Homo sapiens: one gene and its partners. The protein of the gene in region 2 interacts with the protein of the main gene of each other region in a pairwise test. Each region holds a gene or a part of one and is shown on either strand. Other genes may lie near its edges.

Region 1 (8,738 bases), on a different chromosome or scaffold from region 2:
ACCACTGCTTACACTGCATAGTGCCTAACCACTTTGATGTACACAGTCACCACTGAGCCTTCAGCCCTTCCTTTGAAGGCTGGCCGGAAGAGCCTTCTGGGCCTCACTTTTTCATCTCTGAACCAGAGCTGTTGATACATCTCTCGCAAGGTTGTGAATAACATAGGTGGTTTCACTGCACAAACCAAACCACCCCTACAGCATTTTTTAATGAAAAATTTTAGGCACCAGAAAGAGATAAAATACTCTAACAAATACCTTTGTATCTGCCACTTAGACAAATAAAAATTATATTATGGATATAACTGAACCTGTCTACGTAATGCTCTTGATTCCATTCCTTCTCTGCCTCCCCTGAGGAAACCACTCTGCTGAAATATGGACAACAGTATCTTTTATTTGGCTTCCATGTAGAGACTACCTATTGACTGGAAGTAGACCAGGTCAGTTGATGCTTGACAGAGCATATCATAGTAACTAAGAGCCAACACTTAATATTGGTTACTGTGTGATGGGCCCTGGGCTAAGTATTTGACTAATACTAACTCATTTGTCCTCATAACAACCTCTAACATAGTTAACAATTTCTATCTTTGTTTTACAAATAAGGAAAGTGAGGTACAGAGTGGTTAAGTAATTTGCCCAAGGTCACACAGCTATAAGTGGTAGAGCCAAGATTCAAACCAACAGTCAGAAGTCTGTGCTGTGAACCAGTACACTATACTGTCTCGATGTGCCATCAGCATTTATCACTGATTATGCATAAATATCCATGCATAATAAGTGTGTCTGCATATATTCCTCATGCTTTTGGTGGTCTTGCAGTGAAAGACCTTATTTTTGAAAAAGAACTTATCTTTAAAGCTTTTACCTGCAAAAGTCAGATGGGAAGACATAAAGGACCTCATCTTTGGTTATTAGTGGGTGAAAAGAATCTCCATCTGTTCCATTAATCATATTGCACTTGTCTGTTATCCACCAGTCAAGTGACCTATAATTGATAAGCACAAGAAAGAGTAAAGATGATCACATTTGAGTTTAGATTCTCTTAAATGGTCAGGACTTTGCAAGATTTAACTGGAGCTGTCTATCCACAGTATCTTATTCATACACAGACACAACAGTTTTAATTAGATCAAGGGGGAGAAAAAGTAGGTCCCTGGCCCAAATCAGCTTTCATAGAGGCAATGGCCAAATAGCCCAAAACATGTGGTGGTTTGAAAAGTATTTGTGCTGTAGCTACTACACATCACTCAATGACTACTAAGCAAGAGTGGGACTTTTCACTGGCCTGTAATTCATGCCTGGCCATGATAAATCTACAAATCACTAATATTTAATCTGTAAGATGTTTTACCACCATCTTGATTTGTAGAATAATAATTACAAGACTATTTACATGTTTTTATATTTTTCATCCAAAAAAGGCTAAACACATTTTTAAGCAATGTAGAAGTAGACATGTAGTTTAAATGAAAACTGAAAAAATAATTCCACTGATAAATCATTTGACTTACGTTTTCCCATTCCATTCCACAATTTTTGTAAAGTTAAGGTAACTGTCTTCTCCAGTTAGAAAAACATAGTCTCCATCATTAGTCCCATTTTTCTGAAAATATGTGAATATGATCATTTAAAGTAACTGTGATAATTTTATGACAACTTGGCTAGACTATGGTGCCCAGTTGTTTGGTCAAACACTAGCCCAGATGGTGTGGTGAAGGTATTTTGTAGGTGTGATTAATATCTACAATCCGTTAACTTTAAGGGAGGTTACCCTCAATAATGAGTGGCTGGGCCCCCTCCAATCTGTTCAAAGCCTTACAAGCAAAAACAGAGGTTTCTTAGAGGAGGAATTCTCCTCAAGACTGCAACATCGAAATTCTGCCTGGATTTCCAGGTTGCAGCCCACCCTACAGATTTCAAACTCAAGACCACATCATCAACTTTTACCTGAGTTTCCAGCTGCTGGCCTGCTCTATGGATTTCAGACTTACCAGCTCCCATAATCACATAAGCCAATTCCATAATATAAATTTCTTTCTCTCCCTCTTTCTCATCTCTACATATACACCCTCTTGATTCAGTTTCTCTGGCAACCCTAACTGATACAGTAACTAAAAAATTTAATCTTCATCTAACTGTCCTACTAGGGCCTAACTGCTACACAAGACTGAACCAGGACCAGAAAATAGTGACTATTTTGCTAAATACTATATTAACCATATTATTATTTTATGGTTTTAAAAAGTAGGAGCTCAATTTTAAAATGGGCAAAGGATTTGAAGAGACATTTCTGAAAAGAAAATATACTAATGGCCAGAGAGCACATAAAAACATGTTCAGCATCATTAGTCATTAGGGAAATGCAAATCAAAACCACAATGAGATACCACTTCACACCCACTAGGAGGGCAATTAAAAAAAAAAAAAAGAAAAATAGTAAGCGTTGGTGAGGATGTGGAGAAATTGGAACCTTTATACATTGCTAGCAGGAATATAAAAATGTTGCAGTCACTGCAGAAAACAGTTTGTCAGTTCTTAACAAAGTTAAACAGAATTCATAGGACTCCAAAATTCCACACCTATGTATATACTCAAGAGAATTCCACTTCAAGGTATATACCCAATGTTCATATAAAAGCTTGTATGAACAAATATTCATAGCAGCACTTCTAATAATAGCCAAGAAGGAACACAACCCAAATGTCCATCAACTGATAAATGGATAAGCAAAATGTGGTATATCTACACAACGGAATATTCCTCAGTTATAAAAAGGAATGGAACACTGATACATGCTACAACATGGATGAACCCTGACAACATTACACTAAATTTAAAAAGCAGACACAGAAGGGCATATATTATATGACTCCATTTATATGAGATGTCCAGAATATGCAAATTCACAGAGCCAGAAAGTAGATTAGTGGTTGCCAGGGCCTGGGAGAGTAAGACAGGAATAGGAGTGACTGCTAAGAGAGTATGCAGTTTCTTTTTTGGGATAATGAAAATGTTCTGGAATTAGCAGTAATGGTTGCACAACCTTGTGACTATACTAAGGACTACTGAATTGTACATTTTAAAATGGTAAATGTTATAGTAAGTGAATTATTTCTCAATAATAACAAATTTAAAAGCCTAAGTCCAGGACCAGGACCAATTATACCAGAATAGCTACACTGGAAGAAGACGGTATTAATATAGCCCTATTTTCAATTAAGGTTTCTTCAATTGTATATTCTCTCCAAGTTATACTTCTTAAGGGCACATACAGACACTACATTCCTAAAATTCTTTATTTGGGCATGTAGCTATGATTTCTCAGAAATAGCACAGGTAGTAGCTCCTCTATAATAATAGGAGTGAACAATTGTTGAGTATAATATTCCTGGCTCTGTTCTAAAATTTTTGCATGAATCATCTCATGAAATCCTCACAACCACATAAGATAGTGTGGCTATCAGTCTGGTGAATTCAATGATGTAAAAACAAAAAAAGTGAGTTATATAATGCAAATTATCTGAGAAACAGTGAGATATTAGCAACAAGATCTACTTGGCTGATGGATTGAAGCCACTGGGAACAAAAGGGCCTCGAGGGAACCTTTGCATAATATCTCTCAGTAGGAGGCTCTCCTGAAATTATTTCTAGAAGGGAGGTTCAGTCAGGGCTTGACAGGAAATCTGTGCTTCCTCTGGTCCTGTGAAGCTGTATTCCTCTGAGACAGGACCCTCTAGGGAACTCCTGCCTGGTCTGCTTCTCCCGAATGATGCATTCAGAGTTGGTGAGGCCCTACTTTTAGGACTCCTGTCTCTCACACATATAATTTTTTAAAACTTGCTCACAATTCTATTTTAACAATTTCTACGTTTTATATAACCTTGAAGGCCCAGGGACACAATTATTGCTGTTTGCCATAAAAACTGGAATGCTACAGGATTACATGAAGAGGGTAAGACTCTTGAACAGGCAGAGCCAGAAAACAGCTACAAATTTAAAGCTGAGGAGACCCATCACAATCCCAGAGCACACCCCTAATCTAATCCTCTTCCTGGGGTTATTTTATCTTTTACCAACTTCCCAACTATCCACTGCACTCCAGGGTTTTTGTTTTTGTTTTTGTTTTTGTTTTTTTTTTGGCTTTTTTAGACAGAGTCTTGCTCTGTCACCCTGGCTGGAGTACAGTGGTGTAATTTCAGCTCACTGCAACCTCTGCCTCCTGGGTTCATGCAACTTACCTGCCTCAGTCTCCTGAGTAGGTGAGATTACAGGTGTACATCACCACAGCTGGCTAATTTTTGTATTTTTAGTAGAGATAGAGTTTTGCCATGTTGGCCAGGCTGGTCTCAAAGTCTTAACCTCAAATGATCCACCCACCTCGGTCTCCCAAAGTCCTGGAATTACAGGCATTAGCCACCGCACCCGGCCTCAAGTTTTTTTTCTTTCCAAAAAACACTCCATTTTTCACACACTCTATAAGATAACTTAACTCTAGGCAATTTCTAGAAGAAACTCAAAGTTAATCTGGCTTGGGGTGCCCCAACCCACTGTCAGCTAAAAAAAGAGGTTCTGAAAAGAAAAATCTACTTACCTCATAGAATAGGCCAAAATAGGGAGAGATATCGGGCCTGAAAACATGGATAAGGGACAAGATTTCATCTTTGTAGCCCCAGAGCAATTCGTCAACTGTGTGAGTCACAAAGAGCTTCTGCTGATAGGCTTTCAACATGGCCTCGATGATCTCCCTGAGGAAGTGCACCTGGGACCACTCTATGACAGTCTGCGGAGCAGAGGTATATTAAGACAGCAGCATCCCCTCCAAAGCACCTCCATCCACTCTCTCCTACTACCCCATAGCAAAGGGGGTTGGAAATATAAATGTAAAGGTTGAGATTAAATAGCTGAAAAATCAGGCAGTGAGCTCCTTTCTGGCTGCATATGGAAGACAAAGCCTCTTCTCTGTCCTTTCCCAGTACTGCATTTTGTAAGTGTAATATTTACAAAGAGACCATTTGCAGGCTCTGAGTTATCCAGACACCACAAAAGGGGAAAAGCTCTTGTAAACATGTGGGCATCTTTGGCCACAAGGTGGCGCTACCTTCCGCCTAAGCAGGGCCAGAGGCTCATTATAAACCCGACCTACACCCCTGGGACTAGGTGGCAGGGACCTCATACTGTCTAGGTCCTGGGTCCATCATCAGTGTCCAGCTGCATATGGAGCGGTCACCTAGGGGTTAGGGTGGGAGAGTCGGCAGGGGTTGGTGTAGGTGAATTAGAATGTTTACTGGGCCAGCCCAGGAACAGTGGTTCACGCCTGGAGTCCCTGGCCGACACAGGAGGATCCCTGGAGCCCAGGAGGTAGAAGCTTCAGTGAGCTGTGATGGAGCCACTGACTGCACTCCAGCCTGGGCGACAGAGCAAGACCCTGTCTCAAAAAAAATTAATAATAAATAAATTAATTTAATTTAAAAAAAAAGAAAGTCTCATGGGTCTCAGTATAGAATAGATGTAGAATAGGTGTCGTTATTAGGTAGAATTACCATTATAAACAGAGCCCACTGAAATCACAGTAGGCTGCCAGTCTATTGATTTCTGGTGTCAATTTATGAATTTTGAGAGTATAAAATCCAACATAAAAATCTGAAGTAAGAAATGGTATACAAATTTCATTGCTAGAATTTCTGAATGAAAACAAGGGGCAAATAAACATTTTTAAAATTATTAGCTACCAAAAAATCCTAGGGGCATATTTATTTGCACAATTGCTAATCCTGAACACCCAGGAAGAAATTATGAAAACAAATCCTAAAATCTGAATTTTGTCATCATTTGAAAAGACCTTATTTGATACATCTTAGAAAAAAGTCCAAGATGTACTTTAAAGAAAAGAAAAGAAGTATTTTTCTTTTTATATATGTATATTTCAACATAACTTAATGGCTCCTAAATGTAAAATCATAAAGAGCATTAACTTAGCTTTTTCCTTTCTTCCAAAATCCAACTTAATGGTATTAAAATGCCTACTTACCAATACAGGAATATTTAATGTTCTAATTAAGTCAATTTTAGGGTCTCCAACAGATTGGTCTCGTTCAAAAACATAGGCCTTGTTGCTAACAGCAGATATTGTTGTTCCATTATCTCCAAATTGAATATTTGCTTTGTTTCTGAGTTCCCTAAAAGAAAGAAAAGGGTTTTATTTGAAAATAGACACCACTTTAATAAGCAAGACTTTTCCTTTCTTTCAGCATCCAAGTTATATTTTCAATATAACATTCCCAATATAACATTATATAGAGACTGCAGCTACTAAGCCTTAAAAAGCTGGAGATCGAAGCTATAATGTGGGAAGGAAACGAGGCCTAGGATAGAGTCTTCTCAAAAACTTTGTTTTCCTTCTTTTCTTCCCTGATTAGGGAGGTGCAATAGTTGAGGGTCACCTTGACCGGGAATCAAAGCCGATGAACTCTCTCCTGGGTTATGGTTTGGTCCTGAAGTATTTTCAAAATTTTCAGTTTGGTTCACAGATTTAGTTTGAATTTCAATTTGTTTACCAATGTCTTCTTGTTTCTACATTGAATTAAATTGAAATTTTATTTTAAAAAATAATGCCCAAGGCTTAGTAAATTACAGGAGTTCACTCCTGTTTCTTTTTTTGAGATAGGGTCTCGCTCTGTTGCCCAGGCTGGAGTGCAGTGGCATGACTACAGCTCACTGCAGCCTCAGCCTCCTGGGCTCAAACAATCCTCCCACCTCAGCCTCCCAAGTAGCTAGAAGTACAGAAGCATGCCACCACACCCAGCTAATTGTTTTATTTTTTTGTAGAGATGAGGTCTTACTATGCTACCCAGGCTGGTCTTGAACTCCTGGACTCAAGTGATCCTCCTGCCTCGACCTTCCAAAATGCTGGCATTACAGGCATGAGCTACCACACCCGGTCTCTGTTTCTGATATACAGCACAGTTTGGTTCAAGTTAGAGCCCCCAAATGAAGCATTAGAAAGTTCTTAGAAAGCGCCTGGTGCCAGGGCTGGGCCTAGAGTCAGTGTGAGTGATGTAAGAGGTGCCTAAACAAGTAGTAATCAAGATAAATAGTTTAATGCACTATTTATTAAAACCAAAATTTATGCCAAAAATTTATGATGAACAAAATTTTAAATAAAAACAGAATCTGATCTTTTGTTCATCAAATGCCTCACACTAGCCCTAGCCCTAGCCCTGCCTGGTACATAGTAGGTGTTCAATAAATTCCAGTGACTTTTGTTTCTTTCCCTTTGCTTATCTTTCCTTCTTCCTAAACCAGCTAGGGTTATTATGTCTGACATGGTAGCCACTAGTCACATGTGACTACTGAGTACTTAAACTGTGGCTAACTGGAATTGAGATTTGCTGTAAGTGTAAAATATATACAGAATTTCAAAAACAGTGCCAACCTTTTTTTATATTGATTATATATTGAAATGATGCTATTTCAGTTATAATGGGTAAAATTAAAATATATTATCAAAATTAATTTTACCTGCTTCCTTCTACTTTTTAAAAAATGTGGCTACTAGAAAATCTTAAAATCTTAAATTACACATGTGGTTCATGTAATATTTCTATTGAACAGAGCTAATTTAAGAGCACAGGTTAGGAAGGCATTGGCCAGCTGGGCTACCCACACCTCCTCTGAGGCCTTTCCCAACCATAGCAGCACAGGGATTTTTCTCACCCACCTGTGGATGTCCGTACATGTCTTTAGCATTCAATTAGAAACTTCTGAGTGACATCATTTAGATTGTGAAATTATCATGTAGCCTCAGGTAGACTGCAAGCAAGCTGAAGGCTGAAACTGGTACGTAAAAATGCGCCTCGGTGATGATGGAGTTATGTCCCAGTAAACCCATCATAAGTTGAAAACATCGTAAGTTGAAAGTTTGTTTTTGATTCAACAACTTAGTATCTTTCCAATTTACAATGGGTTTATCTGGATGTAACTCTATCGTCATTGGAGGGGCATGCCAAATACATCACTTTCACACAATCGCGAAGTCAAAACATCATTCAAGTTGAACCATCATAAGTCAAGGACTGTCTGTATATTGTATCTCTTTATACCTCTTAAATCCCTTCTAGACTTTAAAATAAAAACAGATGAGAAAATAAATGCATTCATATAGATGCATACAAATAGATGAGTCTTTGTATCTTCTCCAGTAGAAAAAACAAACCATTTTTTTCTGTGCTCTCATACTGTAACAACTTACACAGAAGACTTCTAAGACTTCTGAGACTTCTGGTCACCAAGAAGTGTGTGGCGTTTTCTCTGCACCAATAATTCTGCAGTGTCCTCCAATTCAATTCAATTCTGATACTTTCTACTTGGACATAGCATCAGATTCTACAGGTTGAGACTGCCTTCCACCTCCTATGCCAATCAAAAGCCCCAGGCTGTTTTACCTGTGCTTCTGAACTAATGGCTATAAATTGGGGTTCCCATCCCCCTGTGCTTGGGCTCAATTAATTTGCTAGAACAGCCCAGAGTACTCAGGGAAACACTTACATTTTATTATAAAGGATATTACAAAGTATACAGATGAAGAGATGCACTGGGCAAGGTGTAGGGGAAGGAGCTCAGAACTTCCATGCCCTCTGCAGGCTCGCTACTCTCCAGGAACCTCCCCATGTTTGGTTCTCTGGAAACTCTCCAAATTCAGTCCTTTTGGTTTTTTATGGAAGCTACATTACATA
Region 2 (4,627 bases):
TGACCTCTTTGGGCTCAAGCAATCCTTCCACCTCAGCCTCCTATGTAGCTGGGACCTGAGGCATGTGCCACTACACCCAGCTAATTTTTTGATTTTTTTTGTGGAGACAGGGTTTTGCCATGTTGCCCCAGGCTGGTCTCTAACTCCTGGGCTCAAGTGATCCTCCCACCTCAGCTGCTTAAAGTGCTGATATTACAGGCCTGAGCCATCATGCCCATCACCAATTATCACATTTTTAGAAATTTTGCATCCTAGTTACTAAACCAGTGGTAGATTGAAATTGACCATGAGGGAGCATGAGCATTTACATTGAGCTGGCAAATGCTGTATGTCAGGATTCCTCCTCCAGAGTCTGCTATTAAACATGTACCAGCCACCATTATATATATGCTAGATACACTGCAGTTATTAAGAATTATATATATGTACACGTATATATACTATTGATACAGTGTAATTGTTAAACATTTAAAAAAATGAAATACAACTTTCAGGGCACATTTCAGCCAAATTCATATTTATTCCAGTCTCTAACACTCTGTTGTTATGTCTGCTGTAAGATGATCAGGAGTTAGTATGAAGTATTCTTCTCTACGCACCAAAGAAAACAAACAAAGCAAACTTCAAGTCAGTGAATTAGTTACCACAGTTAAAATGCATTTGATTTTGTCCTTTTCCTTTTTCACAAGAACGACAGCTGAATACTCTTTCATGTGATGCCTGATATTTTTCTTTTTCTTTTTCTCTCTTTTTTGAGACAGGGTCTTTAAGATGGGGTCTCGCTCTGTTGCCCAGGTTGGAGTGCAGTGGTGCAATCTTGGCTCATTGCAACCTCAGCCTCCTGTTTTCAAGTGATTCTTCTGACTCAGCCTCCCAGGTAGCTGGGATTACAGGCATGTGCCACCGTGCCCGGCTAATTTTTGTATTTTTAGTAGAGATGGGGGTTTCACCATGTTGGCCAGGATGGTCTCGAACTCCTGACCTGAAGTGATCCACCCGCCTCGGCCTCCCAAAGTGCTGGGATTACCGGTGTGAGCCACTGTGCCAGGCTCTGATGTTGATATTTTTCTGTTACAGTCCTTAGCCCAGGCATCCTGTAGCACTCTGTGTCCCAGACTTTTTGATGCAGAAACAAGACTGAAGGAAGATTGTCCAATATAGGAAAGATTCAACTTTTCCTCTATGTGTTTGTCCGCTGGTATTCCTATGAGGCATTTGAGTTACAGGTAGCAGCACATCAGCAAATGACTCCGCTCCCTCTCTCAGCACACATAGCCTAATTGTTACAGAACCCCGAAGGGACACCTGAATGTCCTTTCTTTCAAGGCAATATGTATGACACGCTTTCAAATCTCCTCCTGCCTACTCTGCTTACCTAAAGGGCAAGGGGAGAAAATCCAGCACTGACATAGAGTCTGTAGGTTGAATAAGGCAGCCAAGATTAGAGAGATGTAAGTGAAGAAACCCACTTTATCTGGCTTTGGAGAGAGCTAGTGACTTAAGGCAGGATGTTCATCTGTATCATGTTGACTGGGACAGTCCTGGTTGTTCCCAGTGCAGCTCCATTATCATCCATCTGGCAGTGGGGAGTCTCTGCTGCCCATGTGGTGCTGGCATATGCAGTTCTGCTCATGCTCCTAACGTGAATGCATAAAACACCCCTGCAGTGCCACAGCACTGCTATGAGTTCATGGAAGGCGTAGGTGAGGATACAAGGCAAGAGTGCTCTGGCACCAACACTTGGAGGGGCCACCTGAGCATAAGTTTTCTTAGAGGCTCAGAATTCAAATTGCTAATAGGCTCTTGGAGCAAAATTGCAAAGGACAGATAGGCTTGTTGGTGGCTTCTGTTTTCTTCGCTAACAATCCAGGTTAGTTCTGATTTCCTTCCTGGTCACTTAAAACACCTTAGTAAGTGTGTTAATTGACTTTTAGAGTTGCAAAGGGCTTTTTATTCCATTCAACCCCTGTTCAATTTACAGGTGAGGAAACTGAAATAAGGTACTTAAGTGACTTGCCTAAAGTCACGCAGCTGGCGAGAGGTAGGAGCAGGCTTTCTGACACACTCATCTGGCATTCTTGAGGCTATCCCTACAAATCCTCTTGACCTCTGGTAGAAATTCCACCTCCACCAAATATCTTTCTAAATACATTCATAGCTGGGTGGCTGGATATGGACTCTGAAGCAGAAGATGCTTCATGAAATATTTTTGGTTTATCTAATAACTTTGGTCCAAATACGTATACAGAACTATATACTGAGGTAGCATTACTGAATTTGCCATACGAAACATCTTCACTTTCATCCATCAGGTCAGAATTTGGGAGTCAAGTCACAGACTACTTAAATTGGGTCTTTTTCTTCTTAGACAAATTTATACGACTTTTTTACATTTTTGGCCATCTTCCTATTTAATTCTTTTATGCGATGAATGTATATTTCATGAGGCAATAATTAACCTTCACCAACTTGGCAGGTTGCTTTGTTAGTCAATTATAAGGCTAACAAAATATAAAGGTCATGACTTTGGGAGAAGAAATGCCTTGTGACTCTAAGAGGTTCAGTGACTGCTGATCTACACTTTAGGACTTGTATGATCACCCCCTTTTTATACTAGAATTTAGGCTGTTTGGAGTTGACTTTTACTATTTCAGCTATCAGAATGATGCAGCATTGAATTCCTCCCAAGTGGCTAATCTAGTACGAATACATTAGCAACCCAAATCAGCCTATAAGGAATCAAGTTAAATGATCTTATACTCATGTCCTTTTTTCTACACTTGGGATTTTCACGCAAAAATAAAGACTGACTTACTTGGTAATATTATGATTACAGAATTTGAGTTGCTTCTAAAAAATAATGCAGAGAGAAATACTGAAAATGATGAAGACTTTTTCAAATGTTATAATACGGTCATTTATAAATGACTATTTATATATGTCAGTTACATACATAGTGACAGTTATAGTAAAACACTAGGAACCTGTACTTAAAAAGAAAAAACAAAATCCTGTACACAAAACAAGCATACATATATAAGGATTTGAATCTATGTATATATATTTTACATTTTTCAACATTTGTGTTTTATTCCATTAACATAACCATTTACAGTTATTCCAGAAATTTCAGTCATACACAGTGCTCTTGAATCCAAAGAGTGGTCTAGTGTGTTGGCATTTTCATCAAGTACAGTCCTAGAAAATGTCAAGTTGAACAATAAGATATTGAGGCACATTGGTCACTGTGTATTCTGAATTCTTTAGTATGGTCAGAGGAAGTAGTTAATATATTTCATGTTGATTCTTTGGCTACTCTTGATTTTTGCTTTGGGTAACATCCTCATCCTGGGAACATTCATTACCACTTAATAGCAAGATAACATTAAAAAAAAATCCTTCATTGCCACATTTAATAGCATGTTTAAAAAGGCAGAGGTTGCAATGAGCTGAGAACGCACTACTGCACTCCAGCCTGGGTGACAGAGTGAGACACTGTCTCCAAAAAAAAAATGTTTAAAATGAGACCAAACCCTCATGGAGACATTTCTCTGTTCTATTAGAAACGCAATGGCATTCTCATAGATCCTCTTTCTTTTTTATGATCACTTGTCTAACCAGAGCTGCTATGTCAGGCCTGATGACTTCAATGGGCTCCTCTGGCTTCCAGAACTTCACAACTTGACCCTCAGGGTTGACAAGATACTTCCAAAAATTCCACCTTGGTTCCTTCTTTGAAGAATCTAAAATATCCAGAACATATTTTCATGAGCATAATTTTATTCTTTGTCAAGATTTTCACTTCTATTAGTATCTGCATAAATGATAACTTTAGTATCAAGTTCTAGGACTGTCATAATATAAAAAACAAAACACCCAAACGAAGTGAAACTCAAGGTTAGAGTAACCAGATTTCAATATACTTGATGACTTCACCTATGAGTCTACTCATCTAGTATGTGATCTTAGTATCAAGAAATGAAGCAAAGTAGGCTGGGAGCCGTGGCTCAGTCTGTAATCCCAGCACTTTGGGAGGCTGAGGCGGGTGGATCACCTAAGATCAGGAGTTTAAGACCAGCCTGCCCAACACGGTGAAACCCCATCTCTACTAAAAATACAAAAAATTAGCCGGGTGTGGTGGTGTGCACCTGTAATCCCAGCTACTCGGGAGGCTGAGACAGTAGAATCATTTGAACCTGGGAGGTGGAGGTTGCAGTGAGCTGAGACCACACCACTGCCCTCCAGCCTGGGGGACAAGAGTGAAACTCTGTGTCAAATAAAATTAAAAGCCAAAAAAAATGAAGCAAAGTTGTAATCCCAAATTGCTGGGATTACAGGTGTGTGCCACCACACCAGGCAAATTTTTGTATTTTGAGTAGAGATAGGGTTTTGGCCTCCCAAAGTGAATAATCACCTTATTTTGAAAAGCAATAACTTTTTTTTTGGCAGGGTCTCGCTGTGTTGCCCGGGATGGGCTTGAACTCCTGGGCACTAAAGTGATCCTCCTGTCTTGGCCTCCCAAAGTGCTGGGATTACATGCATGAGCTACCATGCCCAGCCATGATATCCTTTTGATAAATCTTAATTTATGTAAGAAATGTAGATTTTTTTTCTATTTATACCACTC
Region 3 (8,728 bases), on a different chromosome or scaffold from region 2:
AAATAAGAAAATTTCTGTGCTATTGCAAATATTGCATGCTGTACCCGGATAAATCCCTCTGGGAAAGTTGAAACCCATATAAGCAAAATAAAAACATAGCCACATGGTTACAACAGGTCTTACCTAATTCCCTATGGTCATTTGTTTCATTCAAATAGTTGTCTTTAAGCCTAGATTCACAGCTCAAAACCATTATGCAAACAGGGATTTTCAAATTACTATTATTTCCTTTTTAAAGTTTGCACTATTACTTGTTAAATTTTTGCAGAAGTAGAACTCCTAACAGAACAATGCTGGCCCAGCACTTTGAGATAACAGCAAACGACTATGGAACAGAAAAAATTGAACTTAATAATGGACTCCAGGTAGACTTAGCCTGAGATCCACTCCCTTCAAACCTCCCTTGTTGCTCAAACGTGGATAATAGGGTTTTGACACGGACTCCTAGCCACCATTCACTTTCTCTAACATAGGACCAGATCAGCAACCCAGGACGGGCCCATCCTGGCATCAGGAGCTATCAACACCTGAATACAGGATGATTGGTCAGTGATGCTTTTGGAGAAATATCTTGATCAAAAGGGGGAAATGTGAAACTTGTCAGAAACATAATGGAGTCACTTGTGTTAATAAAACTCTGACAAATAGAGCCAGAGAAGGCCATGAAGAAAGGTTTCTCATGCATAAATGCCCAGTAACAAAAACCATCACAAAAGACTCTGCAAAAACCACAACCTTGTACAATGGCCATTGCAACCTTACACACAAAAAATACTTCTGTGAGAATATCCGCCCAGCAAACACCTGTTCAACCTCAGACTGGCGTTATGCTTGCTGTCGATCCTTGTAGCCAAGGATAATTATCTCAAAATAATTTGTAATCCTTCTTTAAAAACCTCCTCCTTCCTTTACCTCCCTGAATATGCAGGTAGTTCATATGCAGTGGGAACACTGTGGCACGTGTATTCCCATTGCAATGCCTATTCCTGAATATCATTTTCTTTTAGAAACCTTCTCTCTGTTTACTATTTAGGTTGACAACAAGTTTGCTTTCAGTAAAGTGCTGGGGACAAAGACCTGTCTCTCAGAAAGTAAAGTCATTAGAGAAACAGAGTAGGTTGCTGGGCAGTTGGGGGTTAACTTGATGTCTGAGGTTATAAATTTAAAGATCTGTCAGAGGAGTTGTGTGTTTTTCATGAGCCATATTGAGCACTCAGGTACAGGCAAAACACAGAGAGCTGTCTTTATCCAGAGTTTGTATTCTGTCCTGCCAGCATGAGAGAGGCAGTTGCAGATGTATGGACTGATGAACCAAGCAATGTAAGCTGGATAATGAGAGGAGTGAAGAAATGAGGAGAGTATTTGACAGTCAAAAAGTAGTAAAGCAATGCATTGGAGGTCTAGATATGGTCAAAGCCCAATTTATTATAATTCATAAATATCATATGTATACATAAATTACCCCAGTCTCTTCTGGGAGATTTCCACACTGGCTTGATGTTCTCTAGTTCATCAAGAAGTAAGCATAACAAGACTGGATAATTATTTCTTAAATTTTATTCTTTATTTGAGTTTAAAACAATTCGAAGATGGCAGAACCCCGTTATAAATGGGTACACTATACCATAGATATAAGGCAAGGAATCCCAATTACTGATTTTTTTGAATGGCCTTTATTTGGCTATATCATTGATAGTCTATGGTGTGGAATTTTTGGACACCTACCAGAACACATATTACCATAAGTTTCCATTTTATCAGGTTCTAAGAAACTTTATTTTTGAAAGAAAAAAATGGACAAGAAAGAAAAATGTTTCTAAAAGTGTTATCTGTGTATAAATAAAGTGGCTGATAAATTAGTGAAAAGGAAGAAGTTTGGAAAGCAGAAGTTTTTATGTTGTATAAAAAGAAATACAGTGAATTCACATTACTTAAGACTGATAATAGATTATTGTTGTGGGTAAATGAGTCATTTTATCTGTTGCATACTTACGTGAAGGCTTTCAAAAGGTCAGTAATAATTTAAAGGAATCTACATCCCTTTTATAATCGGCGAATTGGTGACTAATGTTTTTATTTTTTTCTCCTGTTACATGCCTTTTAGACATTTGGTTGCTCTAACCAAGGTTGGGTAGCAAAAGAGAAAGGAGACAGAACTCTATCAGTCATTGTATTTATTTACCAGCATTTATGGCAAATGGCCAGACCTGGGCAGGGTGGTAGCAATGATAGATTTTACAAATTAAGGCATTGTTCTTTATTTCAAAATTTTCATTTACCTATATTTTCCTTGGTCTTAGAAATATGAATAATTTAGAGCTGGCAATACTCACCATCAGGATATAATAAACGGAGGTTTCTTTGTCTGAAATCCATAAAATGTAGTAATACTCTATTGTACTTTTAAAAATCCTATTTTTGCAGTTGGCTTCCTCTCAGTGAATTAGTTAGGTAGTTTTGGTACATTTGGAGGGTCATAAACATGTCATAGAAAGAGTACTGGCATTATGAAAACCTGGATGTTAGGGACTTCACAATTTGGTCATTTTGCAGCTGTACAACCTTAGAAATGTAAGTTCTCTGAATTTCGGTTTCCTCTGCTGTAAAATAGAGATAGGAATATCCATCTGATATATTTCACAGGTACTACTGTGAGTATTAAATGATATTGTGTGTTTGTGCACTGGAATGTGTAATATAATAAAGTTGTTGATTAATGCTTTAAAAATGTAGCTTGCCCTGTATATTTTTTAAAAATCAAAATAGAAATCATTGGGAAATGTAAATGTTTATGAATCTTACAGCTCAAATGCAAATAATTTACAAATGCTTTATAATAAAATCAAAGATATTCATGGATTTTTTTAAGTAAAAAATCTTTGCAGCTAAATATTCATCAACTTAAACTTATTCTTTCTTTTATAAGAATGTTCACTATGTAACATTATAACTCTCCAAAGGAGAAATTCTATAATTAGTTCAGTTCTCTGCCTTAAAAGTTTTATTATAAGGCAGAAGAATGGAATAATTGAAGTTTAAAAATAAGCAAAAATATATAACTCTAAACCACAGTCCCCTCATTTAAAAGAGCTTAACAAGAATACTTTCTGCAATATATTTATAAACAACCTAATATTTATATAATAACACAAAGTTACAACTTAAATCATGATGATCAAAGTTAATGTGCATTTTGATACCCTTATCAGCTTAAATTATTAAATATCTAACGGTCTTGAGAGATTGAATTTTAAAAAATGAACCACATGTACTTTAAAAATGGTTACCTATTCAATAACTAAGGTGTTGGTCAAGTGTTTAGAATATAGGCCAGAGTTTTAGAAAAATTATTTGAGAAATATAGTATATATGATTGGGTCCCACGTAGAAATAAGCCTGTACAAATGGATATGTTTAAGCATGAACAATAATTGAGGTAACCCACCAACTTCTTTTTTAAAAGCGTAAGTCAACGGGCTTCTTTAAAAGAGCAAATGAATCACTTGCTCATTTTAAATCTCCTATCTTGATTATATTAAATAGTACTACTTTTTAAAATAAGAAATTATTAATTATTAATTAGAGTGTAGGTAACAAATTAGCTGGGCGTTGTGGCGCATTCCTGTAATCCCAGCTACTCGGGAGGCTGAGGCAGGAGAATCACTTGAATCCAGGAGGTGGAGGTAGCAGTGAGCCGAGATCACACCACTGCATTCCAGCCTGGGCGACAGAGCAAGACTCTGTCTCAAAAAAAAAAAAAAAAAAAAAAAAAAAGAATATAGGTAACAAATAGTAAATTCTGGTCAGCAGCAAAATTTTTGGACCCAATGACAAAAACATGTTAATAGAATGTGTTTAAGAATAACTCTATATTGCTGATATTCCAACAGCACTATGATCTTTGCTATCAGCAATCCAAGATTTAGTTCTTCATCAAAAGTCTCTCTCTCTCACACACACACACACACACATTCTCGTACCGTCTTGTCTCTACAAATGCATCTCAGGTTATATTCTGTTTTTGAAGATTACATTTTTTAAAACACATCAACATTTTTCCAACAAATCAATCATCAAAAAATGACTCACTGCTTTCATTAACAATCTCTCAAGATCACTCAATGTTTAAAGATTAGCCTGACAAGAACTTGCAGAGCTGAAATTGAATTGGCATCAGAACAGGATAATTTTAGATGGAGGTAAAAGTGAGTTTATCTTATGCTCAGCAAAACATATTTAGGTCAGTTTAAATATGAGCAACTGGTAAATTTATCCTCAGCTAGCATAGAGGTGGGCATTGTTAATACGATTCAAAGCTTGGTTGGGCACTCTTCGTTTTATAGTATGCCTGGGATACAGCACATCTGTGAGACAAGAAAGGCTAAACTAGAGCTCTGCTTCTTCTAATCCTGCATTACAAATTTAATAATAAAGTACATTTCTGCTATGTTTGTGGTTTTAAAATTATTCACTGTAAACATCCTATATTCTTTCCTAATTAATTTCAGAGCTGGAACTTATATCTATGTCTATGTCAAATTATCATTTATTCTATGAAAAGCAGCACGAATACTCTTCATTCTGGTTTTGACACAAATTCCTTAAAAAAAAATTAAGGCCATTTAATTGAATCAGGGCCAACTGAAGATTACCCTGGCAAAAGTCAAACTACTGATTTAAGAGTTTTGAAAAAGAGCCATAAGTGGTTGTCGTGTATTTTCTTCCTTGGTAACTTGAGAGCAGTTTGTAGAATTTATTAGTCTCCAACATCTCCATCTCGATCTCCAATAAGCCAAAGAAAATGAAAACTTAAGGCTAACAGAGCTGTCCCGAGCAGATCACCCAATGCTGTTAGGTAGGGGATGGAGAAACTATCCGGGTCCTTTCCTTTCCTCCAGAAGTGATGGACCATCCAGTCAGCAATCCACAGCAAGGTAAATACCTAGAAGAGAACAACAGAGATTACTCCGGCTGCCTGGACATTCCTAGCCCATGAAACATGGCCACAAGCCTAAACCACTGGCTTCTGGAAGGGACCGTATGTGTCTAAGTCAAGAACCATGCTTGAAAATAAGAAATACTTAGATGACAAGAATACTTTCATTTCACAAGAAAAAAAACAGCATGTATGTTTACAGGTACTAAAATTTTTCTTCAACTTTTCATATAGATCTCATTCTAGCCTCCCAATAGCCATAATAATTTGGATATTTTAATAGCACTGTACAGTTTCCAAAAGACTGTTTTTCTATGTGATAAACCTGTGAAAAAGGAAGACATTATGAAGAAGGAAATAAAAATTTAAATAAGGAATTATTTAACAGTCTCCTGCTGCAGGTATATCAAATAAAGATGGAAAACTGACCATTCGTTTACTAATTATAAGGCCATTTTTGACTTGTCAAGGAAAATTTCAGTGCAGTAGTAAGACCAATAACTAGAAGGTAAATGCATTTAGAAATGGCTCATCTATGTAGTTATAGATAGATATATACATAAAATGGAAATATTTTAAAAGATTATTCAAACATGAAGATGCTGTATATAAATATTTTCTAGAATATCAGGAATATAAAGACTTTTGTGAAGCTTTGAATTTTGGGACCAGATAAATGTTTTTTTCTTTGATCCACCTAGAGTAGGGGGATTTTCTTTATTTATTTATTTTTACTTTATTTTTTACTATACTTTAAGTTTTAGGGTACATGTGCACAACGTGCAGGTTTGTTACGTATGTATACATGTGCCATGTTGGTGTGCTGCACCCATTAACTTGTCATTTAGCATTAGGTTTATCTCCTAATGCTATCCCTCCCCACTCCCCCCACCCCACAACAGGCCCCGGTGTGTGATGTTCCCCTTCCCGTGTCCATGTGTTCTCATTGTTCAATTCCCACCTATGAGTGAGAACATGCAGCGTTTGGTTTTTTGTCCTTGCGATAGTTTGCTGAGAATGATGGTTTCCAGCTTCATCCATGTCCCTACAAAGGACATGAACTCATCCTTTTTTATGGCTGCATAGTATTCCATGGTGTATATGTGCCACATTTTCTTAATCCAGTCTATCATTGTTGGACATTTGGGTTGGTTCCAAGTCTTTGTTATTGTGACTAGTGCTGCAATAAACATACATGTGCATGTGTCTTTACAGCAGCATGATTTATAATCCTTTGGGTATATACCCAGTAATGGGATGGCTGGGTCAAATGGTATTTCTAGTTCTAGATCCCTGAGGAATCGCCACACTGACTTCCACAATGGTTGAACTAGTTTACAGTCCCACCAACAGTGTAAAAGTGTTCCTATTTCTCCACATCCTCTCCAGGACCTGTTGTTTCCTGACTTTTTAATGATTGCCATTCTAACTGGTGTGAGATGTTATCTCATTGTGGTTTTGAATTGCATTTCTCTGATGGCCAGTGATGATGAGCATTTTTTCATGTGTCTTTTGGCTGCATAAATGTCTTCTTTTGAGAAGTGTCTGTTCATATCCTTTGCCCACTTGTTGATGGGGTTGTTTGTTTTTTTCTTGTAAACTTGTTTGAGTTCATTGTAAATTCTGGTTATTAGCCCTTTGTCAGATGAGTAGATTGCAAAAATTTTCTCCCATTCTGTAGGTTGCTTGTTCACTCTGATGGTAGTTTCTTTTGCTGTGCAGAAGCTCTTTAGTTTAATTAGATCCCATTTGTCAATTTTGGCTTTTGTTGCCATTGCTTTTGGTGTTTTAGACGTGAAGTCCTTGCCCATGCCAATGTCCTGAATGGTATTGCCTAGGTTTTCTTCTAGGGTTTTTATGGTTTTAGGTCTAACATTTAAGTCTTTAATCCATCTCGAATTAATTTTTGTATAAGGTGTAAGGAAGGGATCCAGTTTCAGCCTTCTACATATGGCTAGCCAGTTTTCCCAGCACCATTTATTAAATAGGGAATCCTTTCCCCATTTCTTGTTTTTGTCAGGTTTGTCAAAGATCAGATAGTTGTAGATATGTGGCATTATTTCTGAGGGCTCTGTTCTGTTCCATTGGTCTATATCTCTGTTTTGGTACAGTACCATGCTGTTTTGGTTACTGTAGCCTTGTAGTATAGTTTGAAGTCAGGTAGTGTGATGCCTCCAGCTTTGTTCTTTTGGTTTAGGATTGACTTGGCAATGCTGGCTCTTTTTTGGTTCCATATGAACTTTAAAGTAGTTTTTTCCAATTCTGTGAAGAAAGTCATTGGTAGCTTGATGGGGATGGCACTGAATCTATAAATTACCTTGGGCAGTATGGCCATTTTCATGATATTGATTCTTCCTGCCCATGAGCATGGAATGTTCTTCTATTTGTTTGTATCCTCTTTTATTTCATTGAGCAGTGGCTTGTAGTTCTCCTTGAAGAGGTCCTTCACGTCCCTTATAAGTTGGATTCCTAGGTATTTTATTCTCTTTGAAGCAATTGTGAATGGGAGTTCACTCATGATTTGGCTCTCTGTTTGTCTGTTATTGGTGTATAAGAATGCTTGTGATTTTTGCACATTGATTTTGTATCCTGAGACTTTTCTGAAGTTGCTTATCAGCTTAAGGAGATTTTGGGCTGAGACGATGGGGTTTTCTAGATATACAATCATGTCATCTGCAAACAGGGACAATTTGACTTCCTCTTTTCCTTAATTAAATACCCTTTATTTCCTTCTCCTGCCTGATTGCCCTGGCCAGAACTTCCAACACTATGTTGAATAGGAGTGGTGAGAGAGGACATCCCTGTCTTGTGCCAGTTTTCAAAGGGAATGCTTCCAGTTTTTGCCCATTCAGTATGATATTGGCTGTGGGTTTGTCATAGATAGCTCTTATTATTTTGAGATATGTCCCATCAATACCTAATTTATTGAGAGTTTTTAGCAGGAAGCATTGTTGAATTTTGTCAAAGGCCTTTTCTGCATCTATTGAGATAATCATGTGGTTTTTGTCGTTGGTTCTGTTTATATGCTGGATTATGTTTATTGATTTGTGTATGTTGAACCAGCCTTGCATCCCAGGGATGAAGCCCACTTGATCATGGTGGATAAGCTTTTTGATGTGCTGCTGGATTCGGTTTGCCAGTATTTTACTGAGGATTTTTGCATCGATGTTCATTAGGGATATTGGTCTAAAATTCTCTTTTTTTGTTGTGTCTCTGCCCAGCTTTGGTATCAGGATGATGCTGGCCTCATAAAATGAGTTAGGGAGGATTCCCTCTTTTTCTATTGATTGGAATAGTTTCAGAAGGAATGGTACCAGCTCCTCCTTGTACCTCTGGTGGAATTCGGCTGTGAATCCATCTGGTCCTGGACTTTTTTTGGTTGGTAAGCTATTGATTATTGCCTCAATTTCAGAGCCTGTTATTGGTCTATTCAGAGATTCAACTTCTTCCTGGTTTAGTCCTGGGAGGGTGTATGTGTCAAGGAATTTATCCATTTCTTCTAGATTTTCTAGTTTATTTGCGTAGAGGTGTTTATAGTATTCTCTGATGGTAGTTCATATTTCTGTGGGATTTTTAAATTTTCAAACCCCTGAAGCAGCAAAATAAATTTGGGACTAGAAAGGATAATGTTCATGGTTTTGGACAAGTTGGCAAGTATAGCACAGTGGTTAAAAGCACTTCTTTACAGCCCTTCTCTATTGTCTACTAGCTGACTGAAGGCAAGTTACTCAACCTTTCTGACTCTATATATCCAAATGAACATTAAAATGGTACTTACCTTGTAAGAATGTT

Evidence for each region. The genes of interacting proteins can lie anywhere in the genome.
Region 1: the proteins of GPX8 (region 2) and SCARB2 interact in binary tests that used the Homo sapiens proteins (3 or more experiments, as listed by UniProt).
Region 3: the proteins of GPX8 (region 2) and SLC41A2 interact in binary tests that used the Homo sapiens proteins (3 or more experiments, as listed by UniProt).

What each region holds. Positions count from the first base shown.
Region 1 is NC_000004.12:76,174,920-76,183,657, forward strand, and holds part of SCARB2 (lysosome membrane protein 2), read right to left. Parts: intron 6,183-8,738; coding exon 6,035-6,182; intron 4,787-6,034; coding exon 4,598-4,786; intron 1,610-4,597; coding exon 1,518-1,609; intron 992-1,517; coding exon 872-991; intron 1-871.
Region 2 is NC_000005.10:55,163,171-55,167,797, reverse strand, and holds the end of GPX8 (probable glutathione peroxidase 8), read right to left. Parts: intron 3,744-4,627; coding exon 3,580-3,743; 3' UTR 501-3,579; downstream 1-500.
Region 3 is NC_000012.12:104,800,396-104,809,123, forward strand, and holds the end of SLC41A2 (solute carrier family 41 member 2), read right to left. Parts: intron 4,943-8,728; coding exon 4,757-4,942; 3' UTR 1,406-4,756; downstream 1-1,405. UniProt on the Homo sapiens protein: Acts as a plasma-membrane magnesium transporter. Can also mediate the transport of other divalent metal cations in an order of Ba(2+) > Ni(2+) > Co(2+) > Fe(2+) > Mn(2+).